Linked DNA regions of Homo sapiens: region 1 is linked to region 2. Evidence: fine-mapped expression QTL. A gene starts in region 2. The other region holds a variant in brackets. All regions are shown on one strand. Distances are between the middles of the regions.

The links.
Region 1: its variant is fine-mapped to the expression of NFKBIE in whole blood (INTERVAL, PIP above 0.99).

What each region holds. Positions count from the first base shown.
Region 1 is chr6:44,367,012-44,372,383 of GRCh38, reverse strand. SPATS1 (spermatogenesis associated serine rich 1) reads right to left here. Exons shown (of 9, transcript NM_001372081.1): 6 at 3,885-4,005; 7 at 2,271-2,333. Among named protein-coding and RNA genes, the nearest start is that of CDC5L, 18 kb to the left of the region's middle. The variant C/T (reference allele first, on the strand shown) is at 3,115.
Region 2 is chr6:44,263,025-44,268,396 of GRCh38, reverse strand. It overlaps NFKBIE (NFKB inhibitor epsilon), which reads left to right and starts at 2,846. Exons shown (of 6, transcript NM_004556.3): 1 at 2,846-3,415. The coding sequence starts at 3,051. RefSeq lists a silencer at 2,632-3,301 and enhancers at 3,220-3,719, 4,112-4,341, 4,642-4,691, 4,772-4,891, 4,902-5,151 and 1 more.

The DNA.
Region 1 (5,372 bases), 100 kb before region 2:
AAAATTACTAGACATACCAGGAAGCAGGAAAATGTGACCCATAATCAGGAGAAAAATCAGTCAGTAGAAACACACCCAGAAATGACACAAATAATAGAATTAGCAAACAAAAATCTTTTTTTTTTTTTTTTGAGATGGAGTCTCACTCTGTCGCCAGGCTGGAGTGCAGTGGCGTGATCTTGGCTCACTTCAACCTTTGCCTCCCGGGTTCAAGTGATTCTCCTGCCTCAGCCTCCCAAGTAGCTGGGACTACAGGTGCGCGCCACCACACCCAGATAATTTTTGTGCTTTTAGTAGAGACAGGGTCTCACCATGTTGGCCAGGATGGTCTTGATCTCTTGACCTCAATCTGCCTGCCTCGGCCTCCCAAAGTGCTGTGGTTACAGGAGTGAGCCATCATGCCCGGCTGCAAACAAAAATCTTTTTTTTTTTTTTTTTTGAGACGGAGTCTCGCTGTGTCGCCCAGGCTGGAGTGCAGTGGCACCATCTCAGCTCACTGCAAGCTCTGCCTCCCAGGTTCACGCCATTCTCCTGCCTCAGCCTCCCGAGTAGCTGGGACCACAGGCGCCTGCCACCACGCCCAGCTAATTTTTTGTATTTTTAGTAGAGACAGGGTTTCACTGTGTTAGCCAGGATGGTCTCAATCTCCTGACCTCGTGATCCGCCAGCCTCAGCCTCCCAAAGTGCTGGGATTACAGGCATGAGCCACCGCGCCCAGCCCACAAACAAAAATCTTTAAACAGCTATTACTATGTCCAAGTATTTAAGGAAAACATGAAAATAGGAAAGAACAACAGATATAAAAAAGAATCAAATAGAATTTCTAAAGATCGAAATACATAATCACTGGATAGGACTAACAGCAAACTAGACGCTACAGAACAAAATAGAGAATCTAGGAAACAATAAATGCTAAATCCAGCAACAGAAGCCTTTGTCACTTCTGCCATGACTAACTGGTTAGTAGACTTTTTCATTAGGGTGACTGTCCCTGAGGAAAGGGTCCAAGTCTCACAATTGTCTTATTGACCATAGCACAGAGGAATATGCTGATCGACTTCTCTCTCTTTTTTTTTTTTTTAATTTGAGACAGGGTTTTGCTCTATCACCTAGGCTGGAGTGCATAGCACAATCGTAGCTCACTGCAGCCTCGAACTCATAGACTCAAGAAACCCTCCTGCCTCAGCCTCCCAAGTACCTAGGACTACAGTTGCATACCACTATGCCTGGCTAATTTTTAAAAAAAATATTTTGTAGAGATAGGGTCTCACTATGTTGCCCATGCTGGTCTCAATCTCTTGGCTTCAAGCAGTCCCCCTGCCTTGGCCTCCCAAAGTGCTGGGATTATAGGTGTGAGCCACTGCACCCAGCTAGCTTTGTACTTCAAGAAAAAAAAAAAAAAAACCTTTCTTTTTAGGAAAACCAGACTAATTGGTATTCTGGGGTTTATACATGTAAAAACATATTTGCATATGAAAGGTAATGTACAAAAGCTAAAATAGTAGAGTGATGAAATGTAGGCAATTGCTATTATTTGGAATATTCTAGAATAGTGTTTATTAAAAATGTAAAGTACAGACATGAGAAGCCCTAATCGTGTGCCATAAGTAACAATGCAACATAATAAAGACATTAAAATCTCAAGTTTGGAATAAAAGGTTTTTATTCCCACTGAGCTCCAGAGTGGGTTAGACCCTGGGACACATGCCCACTCATAGGAGACTGTTTTGTATTAGAAAGTAAAAAAAGAAAGAAAGAAAAGAAAATATCTCTTTATAGGTCAGAAACCTGCTTAGGTAAATAAGTGAGGTTCAGAATGGAGTGAAGCAAAAGTATGAAATTAAAGGAATGATATTTCCCTCAAACACAGAAGTGCTCTGTTAGCTTTCTTTCTGCCTCTTGAAACTCTAACCATTCTCGCCAGTTGCAATCATTTAAGTATGTGTCTTTTTTTCCCAACATACTCATGTTCTAGGAATCAGGAACCCTGTCTTTTTGTTCCATGTGAACTCTCCTATAGTGCATGGCTAGCACAACACATGGCATCTGGTAGTTTGTCAATTACATCTGTTGAATATGTGACCATCCCAATTGCAGACTCTACAGAATGTCTATCCAAACACCTTCCTTACAAACTGCCCCACCCTCCTGCTGGGATTCAAAAGGGCCCTGTGTCCTGGTTATCTACCTGCTCCTCCACATAAGGAAACAATAAAATAATCGATATTTAATAAAGATGGGATAACACAAAACATGACAAGAGAACTCACTTGGGAATTTGTGGAAGAGGCTCAAGTGGAATAAATGTATCAAATTTCTTTTCATAAGGCACTCTGAAAAACAGAAAAGGCAATCATAAAACTGGTATGCCATCTACAGCAAAGAGATCAATACATCATTGTATTCAATAGAATGTCCTGTTTTCCGATTTTAATTTTCAAGTATTGACTTCAAAACTGTAAGAACCGCAGATTTTATTTTATTTTATTTTATTTTATTTTATGTATGTTTTGAGACAGGGTCTCACTCTGTCCCCAAGGCTGGAGTGCAGTGGCACAATCTCAGCTCACTGCAGCCTCGACCTTTCAGGCTCAGGTGATCCTCCCACCTCAGCCTCCCAAGTAGCTGGGATTATAGGCACACACCACCATGCCCAGCTAATTTTTTGTATTTTTGTAGAGAAGGGGTTTCTCCATGTTGCCCAGGTAGGTCTGGAACGCCTGGGCTGAAGCAATCCTCCAGCCTCAGCCTCCCAAAGTGCTAGGATTACAGGCATGAGCCACTGTGCCTGGCCCACAGATTTTATATTATTTTATTTTATTTTATTTATTTTGAGATGGAGTCTTAACTCTGTCGCCCAGGCTAGAGTGTGGCGCTGCAATCTCGGCTCACTGCAACCTCCATCACCCAGGTTCAAATAATTCTCCTTCCTCAGCCTCCTGAGTAGCTGAGATTACAAGCATCTGCCACCGTGCCCAGCTAATTTTTGTATTTTTAGTAGACACGGGATTTTACCATGTTGGCCAGGCTGGTCTTGAACTCCTGACCTCAGGCGATCCACCCCACCCCACCCTTGGCCTCTCAAAGGGCTGGGGTTACAGGCGTGAGCCACCG[C/T]GCCCGGCCCACAGATTTTAGTTTTGATCATTTTTAGTCAACATCATTATATCCCACATGGTTAATTTTTTAAAATAATATTTTAAATGTAGTACACCAACTACCCAGCACTTTGGGAGGCCAAGGCGGGCGGATCACGAGGTCAGGAGATCAAGACCATCCTGGCTAACATGGTGAAACCCCGTCTCTACTGAAAATACAAAAAATTACCCAGGTGTGGTGGCGGGCACCTGTAGTCCCAGCTACTCGGGAGGCTGAGGCAGGAGAATGGCATGAACCCAGGAGGCAGAGCTTGCAGTGAGCTGAGATGGCACCACTGCACTCCAGCCAGGGCGACGGAGCGAGACTCCGTCTCAAAAAAAAAAAAAAAATGTAATACACCAACTATTTTTCTTTTAATGTAATGATCCTCCCACTTTTCTCCATCACTTTGGTCTAAGTTTATTTCCAAGTTTAAGTCCACCCACATAGTAGTCACTATGGCCAACAATCTGATTCAGTATGAAAATTTAAAAGTTTTCAAATCTGTGATAATAGAGATAGGAACAAAATTAACAACCACTTTTTTGTAGTCCAAGTCCTGTGTGTAATTTTAATTATACACATGCATGTGTGCAGACATTAATTAACTAAAGATGAGCTTTTCAAGGAATTTTCATCCAATCACATCTTGTTGACATCTATCCCTTTTAAAATATAATTTCTGTGTAGTAGAGAGACACAATTCCTTTAAAGTTAACTATATAATGCTAGTATTAACATACACTTACATTGAAAAATTCACTGGTGGGAGCATTGATCCTGCTTTGTGGAAGCCTTTACTCTGTTCTGGGTACATATATGGATTGTCGCCTGGAGTTAACTTTGGGATTCCATTCCTGGGATCAATATCTGTGGAGAAGGTTTGAAAACAAAATCATACAAGGGCTGAAGATGATCCACAGATTTGCTGTAAGTATTGGCATGACAATGGAAAGAGGATATTTTAGTATTTTATTATAAATTACATAGAAGTTTCTCAAAGTTCTGTTTGTGATTATCTTGCCTTAAGGAGATGAGCCTATATTTGGGACATTTTCCAAAAAGTGTTGTTGTAACTACCTCACCCTGGAAAAGAATTGTTAGATTCAGATGGAGTGTTTTGGTTTAAAATATAAGGTGAATCAGAGGTTTCTTTGCAATGATCCAAAAATCTCTGACCTAAAAATCTCTTCATTCCTGAGCATTAGTGCACTTTGAATCCCTGAGTCTTAGGAAGCCGAAGAAACAAGTGTCCCTGGGGCTCTGCCTCTCTGACTGGGTCCAGGAAGGAAACCAACTAAGGATGTCTTGCTCCTTCTGCCTCAAGGACTGGGGCCATGCAGCAGTGGGAGGTGGCTTCCTGGAGAAGAGCAAGATTACTCAGCAGAGGTTCTTACACCCAGCTCAGCCCCTGCTAAAGCCCTGGGAACAAGAAACTAATCACGGGAGTGGAAGGCATCAGCCTAGTGTAGGGTGATCATTTAAACCCACACACCTAAAGTCCTTAAAATTGCCTATTTAAAAAATTAAAATTTAAAATAAATAAATCAACCCACACACTTACACCAGATGCATCTCCTAAGAGAATAAGCCTGGACTACGAGACTCATCACCCTTGGGCTCAGAAGCAGGGACACGTGGCTGGAAGCATGACCTCCATCTTTGCCACACACCCAGATTCTTCTAGCTAACTCGGAAAAGCCATCAGCGTGACAGGTGGAAGTTCTTGGGTTACCAGAGTATTTACTTTTTTGTCTTTCTCTTTCAAAAACCTTTTCAATAACTGACTGTATTACACTTTTGATTAGCTCTTCTGTGTGGTGAAATAACATCAACTGCACCCATGCATTGAGTGCCTGCTGGGTATGAGATGCTGAGGATTCAAAGCAGAGAGAGTGGAGGTTTAAAATATATACTGAATCCCCTTGAGGCCAGGAGTTCTAGACCAGCCTGGCCAACACAGTGAAACCCTGTCTCTACTAAAAATACAAAAATTAGCTGGGTGTGGTGGCACACGCCAGTAATCCCAGTTACTCGGGAGGCTGAGACAGGAGAATCGCTTAAACCCGGGAGACGGAGGTTGCAGTAAGCCGAGATCATGCCACTGCACTCCAGCCTGGGAAATAGAATGAGACTCTGTCTCAACAATTTAATCAATTAATTAAATATACAGTGCATCTGAAACCTTTTGCATACCAAACCAGGGCACTGACAAGTAAGAGTTGGGTGACAAGAGG
Region 2 (5,372 bases):
GGCCCAGCCTCAGAGAAGACTGGAGCTGAGGAGGCGAGGTCAGGTCCCTAGCCATGCTGTGGCCTAAGTCAAAGTCCCCAGGTCACCCTTTCAGATAACACTGCAATGGTCCCCCTCCCCATTCCTGGAGTGTTGGAAAGGATTCCTGTCAAGAGTGCAAGCTCTGGTAGTGGGGCCAGTGGGTGACTCAATGCTGACCTCATGTGGCCATAAAAGGGACTGCCACACACCTGTTACGGCTCAGAGCCAAACACCTGGCTGGGTTAAGTGGGTTTTTCCTAAAATTCAGCCTCTGTATGAATAAAAAGGAGGTCCTTGCACACTCCTGAGTTCTTACATCCTTGCAGAGGGCTCAGACACTCCCACCCTATGTGGTTTACCTCTTGATAAAGAAAAGAAGGTTCCACTAAAAAATATGTAAAAGTTTTGGATTAGATGAGAAGCCATCTCTGCACTTTCTATTTTAACTTGAGCAAGTCAACTCACCTCTCTGGGCCTCAGTTTCCCAACATTAAAATGGGGATGATAGTGTCAGATTTCGTGTGGATTTTTTTGTTTTTGTTTTTGTTTTTAGACTGAGTCTCACTCTGTTGCCCAGGCTGGAGTGCAGTGGTGTGATCTCAGCTCACTGCAACCTCCACCCTCAAGTGATTCTCCTGCCTCAGCCTCCCAAGTAGCTGGGATTAATTACAGGCATGTGCCACCAGGCCCAGCTACTTTTTGTATTTTTAGTAGAGATGAGGTTTCGCCATGTTGGCCAGGCCAGTCTTGAACTCCTGACCTCAAATGATCCACCCACCTCAGCCTCTCAAAGTTTATAGGCGTGATTACAGGCGTGAGCCACCGCGCTCGGCCAAATTTTGAACCCAGTTGGTCTGGGTCTGGAGTTTATTACTATACTTTTGCTGCAGCCTTTGAGGACCGGAGAGGAACATGTCAGGGGAGGAGACTGAGAACATCTGAAATCATGCTGACTCAAGGGAAGGAGATGCTTCAATTTCCCAGGCCTTTCCCCTCGTGGCTCCTCACTGGGCTTCATGCTCATTACGTCTTTCCCACTCTGGTCCTACATGGGGTTGAAGAACAGTGGGCCATCTTCTCCCCTCAGCCCTCCCCCAACTCTTCTGCCTCCAATCGCCCCCCACAGACTAGGTCCTTCTCCTCTCCCTATCTCTCTTCCCTTCCCATTCTCAGTTCAAATGGAAGCTTCCTTGCCTCTCACCCCACTGAGTAGCTGGCCCCACTGTGTGCCCCCACAACACCCTGTTCTCACTTCTGTCTTATCCCAACCACTCTGAGCTGTAATTGCCAAGGAGCTTTTTTAGGACCATGGGATTTTTTTGTTGGTCATGGGGGGTGGTTATTGGTTATTACTGTGATAGTCAGTTTTGCTTCCAGTAGAAAGAACAACGTCAGACATTACAGGAGACCTTCCATACATGTTTGTCAAGTAGGTGAATGATGGATGAATAAAATGAGGTTGCAGGGGAAGGGCTGTGGGAAAGCTGGCCTCCCCCCTGCAAAACGTTGCTGTCTACACTCATCCACCTTCCTTTCTCCAATGCTGGAGATGGAAAAGCTACATGTTCCCTTGCGGATAACCCTCTAAGGGCATTGCTGGCGTTAGGCTGATAGCACTTGGAATAGTGGGGAGGAATGAGGGAATAAATCATGGAGCATGGGCTTAGGGCTCACTTGTAGTAGGGTGCTCCCACGGCCTTCCTAGGCCCAGGGACAGTGAAAGAGGAAAGATGTTTTGGGACTAAGATTGGGGCTGTGTTGGGGACCTGAGCAGAGTGCAACCCAGCATGTCTGGGGCCTCCCCAACCTGACCCCACTTCCTTGACTGCTGGGGTTGACCAGAAACTGTAACTACCCAAGGCCAGGGTTTCACCCTTTGAGGAAGAAGAAACTCCACAACCACTTTACTTTTTAGACAACAGTTTCCCTGAGAAGACGCTCTTTCCAAAAAAACATTTTCATGCCCAATTCCATGTGATGTGGGACGTTGACACAGGAGACTGTCTTCCAGGACCCAGGAGAACTGCTCCTTTAAAGATAATGGGAGTCCCCTTTCCCTACCCGTACCCCTGGGCACTGATAGGGAAAGATGAGAAAGCAAGAGAAATTGAGATAAATGGGCAGGGGATAGGAAGCAGTGCTTCCCCATCCCATCGCCTACATGCCCTCCCCCAAAGATGCCAGCTTGTACGGACAATTAATAGATATTTCTTTTAAAACAAATGAATGATCCGGGACCGGTGGCTCACAGCCTGTAATCCCAGCACTTTGGTAGTCCGAGGCAGGCAGATCGCTTGAACCCAGGAGTTCGAGACCAGCCTGGGCAACGTAGCGAGACCCCCGTCTCTACTTGTAGTCCCAGCTACTCGAAAGGCTGAGGCAGGAGAATCGCTTGAACCCAGGAGGCGGAGGTTGCAGTGAGCAGAGATCAACCACTGCACTCCAGCCTGGGCAACAGAGCAAGACTTCGTCTCAAAAAAATAAAAAATAAAAATAAAACAAATGAATTAAGAAATAGAAGTGAAAGAAGGAAACAGTACATGCGTGGAACTAATGAATGGAGTGAAGGAGGAAGGGGGAAAGAGTGAATGAATGAATGAATGAATGAGTGAATGAATCAACGAAGGAGTGAGTCAAGGCCCGGGAACCACAGACTCCAAGCCTACGCAGAGCCCGGGAAGGGGGATTCCGGAGGGGCGGGGCCTCTTTCCGGAAGCGCCCGCCGGGGGCGGGGAGGGGGCGGGGCCATCCGCGTGAGGCGACCCTGTTGGTCCGGAGGGGCGGGGCGAGGAGGAGGACCCGCTTGGGCGGTTCGGCTGCCCACAGTAACCGCTGGGTGGACCTGGCCAGCGCTCCGAACCTTGTCCTCGCTGCGCGCCGGCCCCTCGGAGCCCCACAGCCCGGGAAGGAGGCCGCCGCGGGCCGGGCGCCCGCTCTGCCAAGCGGACCCGCAACCCGGAAAGGCGGCGCGGCGGAGCCTGGAGCCGGATCCTGCTCAGACCGGGCCCCGGCCGGCCAGAGCCGCGGGCATGTCGGAGGCGCGGAAGGGGCCGGACGAGGCGGAGGAGAGCCAGTACGACTCTGGCATTGAGTCTCTGCGCTCTCTGCGCTCCCTACCCGAGTCCACCTCGGCTCCAGCCTCCGGGCCCTCGGACGGCAGCCCCCAGCCCTGCACCCATCCTCCGGGACCCGTCAAGGAACCACAGGAGAAGGAAGACGCGGATGGGGAGCGGGCTGATTCCACCTATGGCTCCTCCTCGCTCACCTACACCCTGTCCTTGCTGGGGGGCCCCGAGGCTGAGGACCCGGCCCCACGCCTGCCACTCCCCCACGTGGGGGCGCTGAGCCCTCAGCAGCTGGAAGCACTCACTTACATCTCCGAGGACGGAGACACGTGAGTATGGGGGCTAGGCTGAATCGGGATGCTAACTCTGGGCCTGCCCAAGAGCCGCAACAGGTCGGGCACCCCCACTCCCCCGTGAAGATCCTTCAAGTCCCCATTCGCTCTTCCAAACTCCAGACTTAACTCTCAGCCCACTTTTGAGGTCCAGCTAGGCCATGGAATCATCTCTGTCCTCCCATTTCGGGGTGGGCAGAGCTGGCAGGACCCTTAACCCAGCCAGCATCTTGGAAATCTACCAATAATCCACCCTTAGGAAGAGAAAATTCCCCTGACCAAGTCCAGTTTTTTTGTTTCTTCTTGCTGGGGAAGGGGACATCCTTATTTGCTCAATATCTGGGATTCCCAGTTCCTGACCTCAGAATGCTCTGTCTCAAGGAACAACAGGTGCCAGTTACAGGTTGCCAGTCGGGGCCAGGAAGCTAGGCATGGGGGGTGCCACCAGGGTGTAGGTTTGGGACTGGTCCTCAGGAGGATGGGGTGAGCCAGGCTGGGGCACTCTTGCCCCAGCAGACAGACAGGCGGCTGGCTGCCCCAGCTTACTTCCTCCTCTGCTAAGAAAGGGGAAGTGAGGGCTAGAGTCAGCGTCCCTGACATCCTCTACCTCCAGAGCCCCCAGTCCCACTAACTGTCGTGTCTCACTCCCTCACTTAACCCTTCCTCCTCCAGACCCAGATGGAGTTTGGTGGGAGTGGGCCAGAGGGCAGTTGAAGTAAAAGGCAGTTGTGTGGGATGGGTTGGCCAGTTGAGGATTTAGCCCCCCAGGAAGAAGAAAACATTGACAGAGGAGGGAAAGGTTGGGAACTGGGGATGAGAAATAGAGTTGGGGAGGGCTGGAATCCCTGGTCAAGGGTGCTCATATAAATAGGAGTAGGGGAGGCAGGAGGTGGCTGTCCTAACCTGCTTTTTGGAGATGCAGGGTCCTAATCCTGGGTGGCCATTGATAAAGACAGCTGGTGGACCCAGTGGGTGGGAGAGGAGTGACCCAGTCCTTTCTGTACTCTGCCTGGATCACCAGCCCTCAGGCCCAGAACCCCAAGGTTTTGGGGGCTGCACGCAAGATACCTCTGATGACCTTTGATCCAAGGAGAGGGGACTTTTGACATTGCCGTCTTTTGTTAGCCTCTCAGCCCCAGCCTTTTCCATCTCTAGTTAGAAGCAGGTGTTGTGTCCAGATTGGGTGTGTGTGTGGAGGGGAGAAATGTCCGGGCTCCCCAGCGAGTCCCCAGAGAGCAGGGGGCACTTTCCTCCCTCTGTTGGAGGTGTCTGGGCTGTGGGAGGTATGGAAGTGGGAAGAGGAAGTGGGAGGAGGGGATACTGGGGGAGAGAGGGAGGTGGCTGCAAGAATGTGACCCAGAGAGCAGGCCCTGGCCTAGGGGATTTCCAGAGCAGTTCCTCCCTCCCTCCGTCACTCTCCTGGGCCTCTCCTGCTGCCTGCTGCTAAAGCCTGCCACCCTCCTGCCCAAGCAGCCCCCTCCCCAGCCCAGACGGGCCTTTTAGCCAATCTACCCCCCTCACTAATGCCCCAAGGCAGCTGTCCCGGCCTAGACCCTCCATCACTGGCTTTCGTTTTCCCCACCTGACGTGGGGAAACCCCAAGACTGGAACTTCCCCTCCCAACTGCCCCCATTACCCCTAGATTAAGGTTCTTGGCCCCCTCAACAAATACATTTTCTGCACTACAAAGACCTCCTCTTGGAGGTGCACACAGGAATGGAGGGCCTCTGTTAGGCCCGACCTGGTCTGTGCTATCTGAGAGGTGCCTCTTGACTCCCAGGGAAGGGCAGCAGGACAGGATGCTGCACTGTCTCCTTGCTCCTCTTCCAAGAGTTTCTGTGTCTCTCCCTTGGAATGTGTAACACTGAGTTGCTTGGGGGTACGGGGTGACCCTGCAACTGTCTCCTTCTTTCCTGTGTGCTGGGGTGGTGGGGTGCTTAGCCCTGGAAACCCC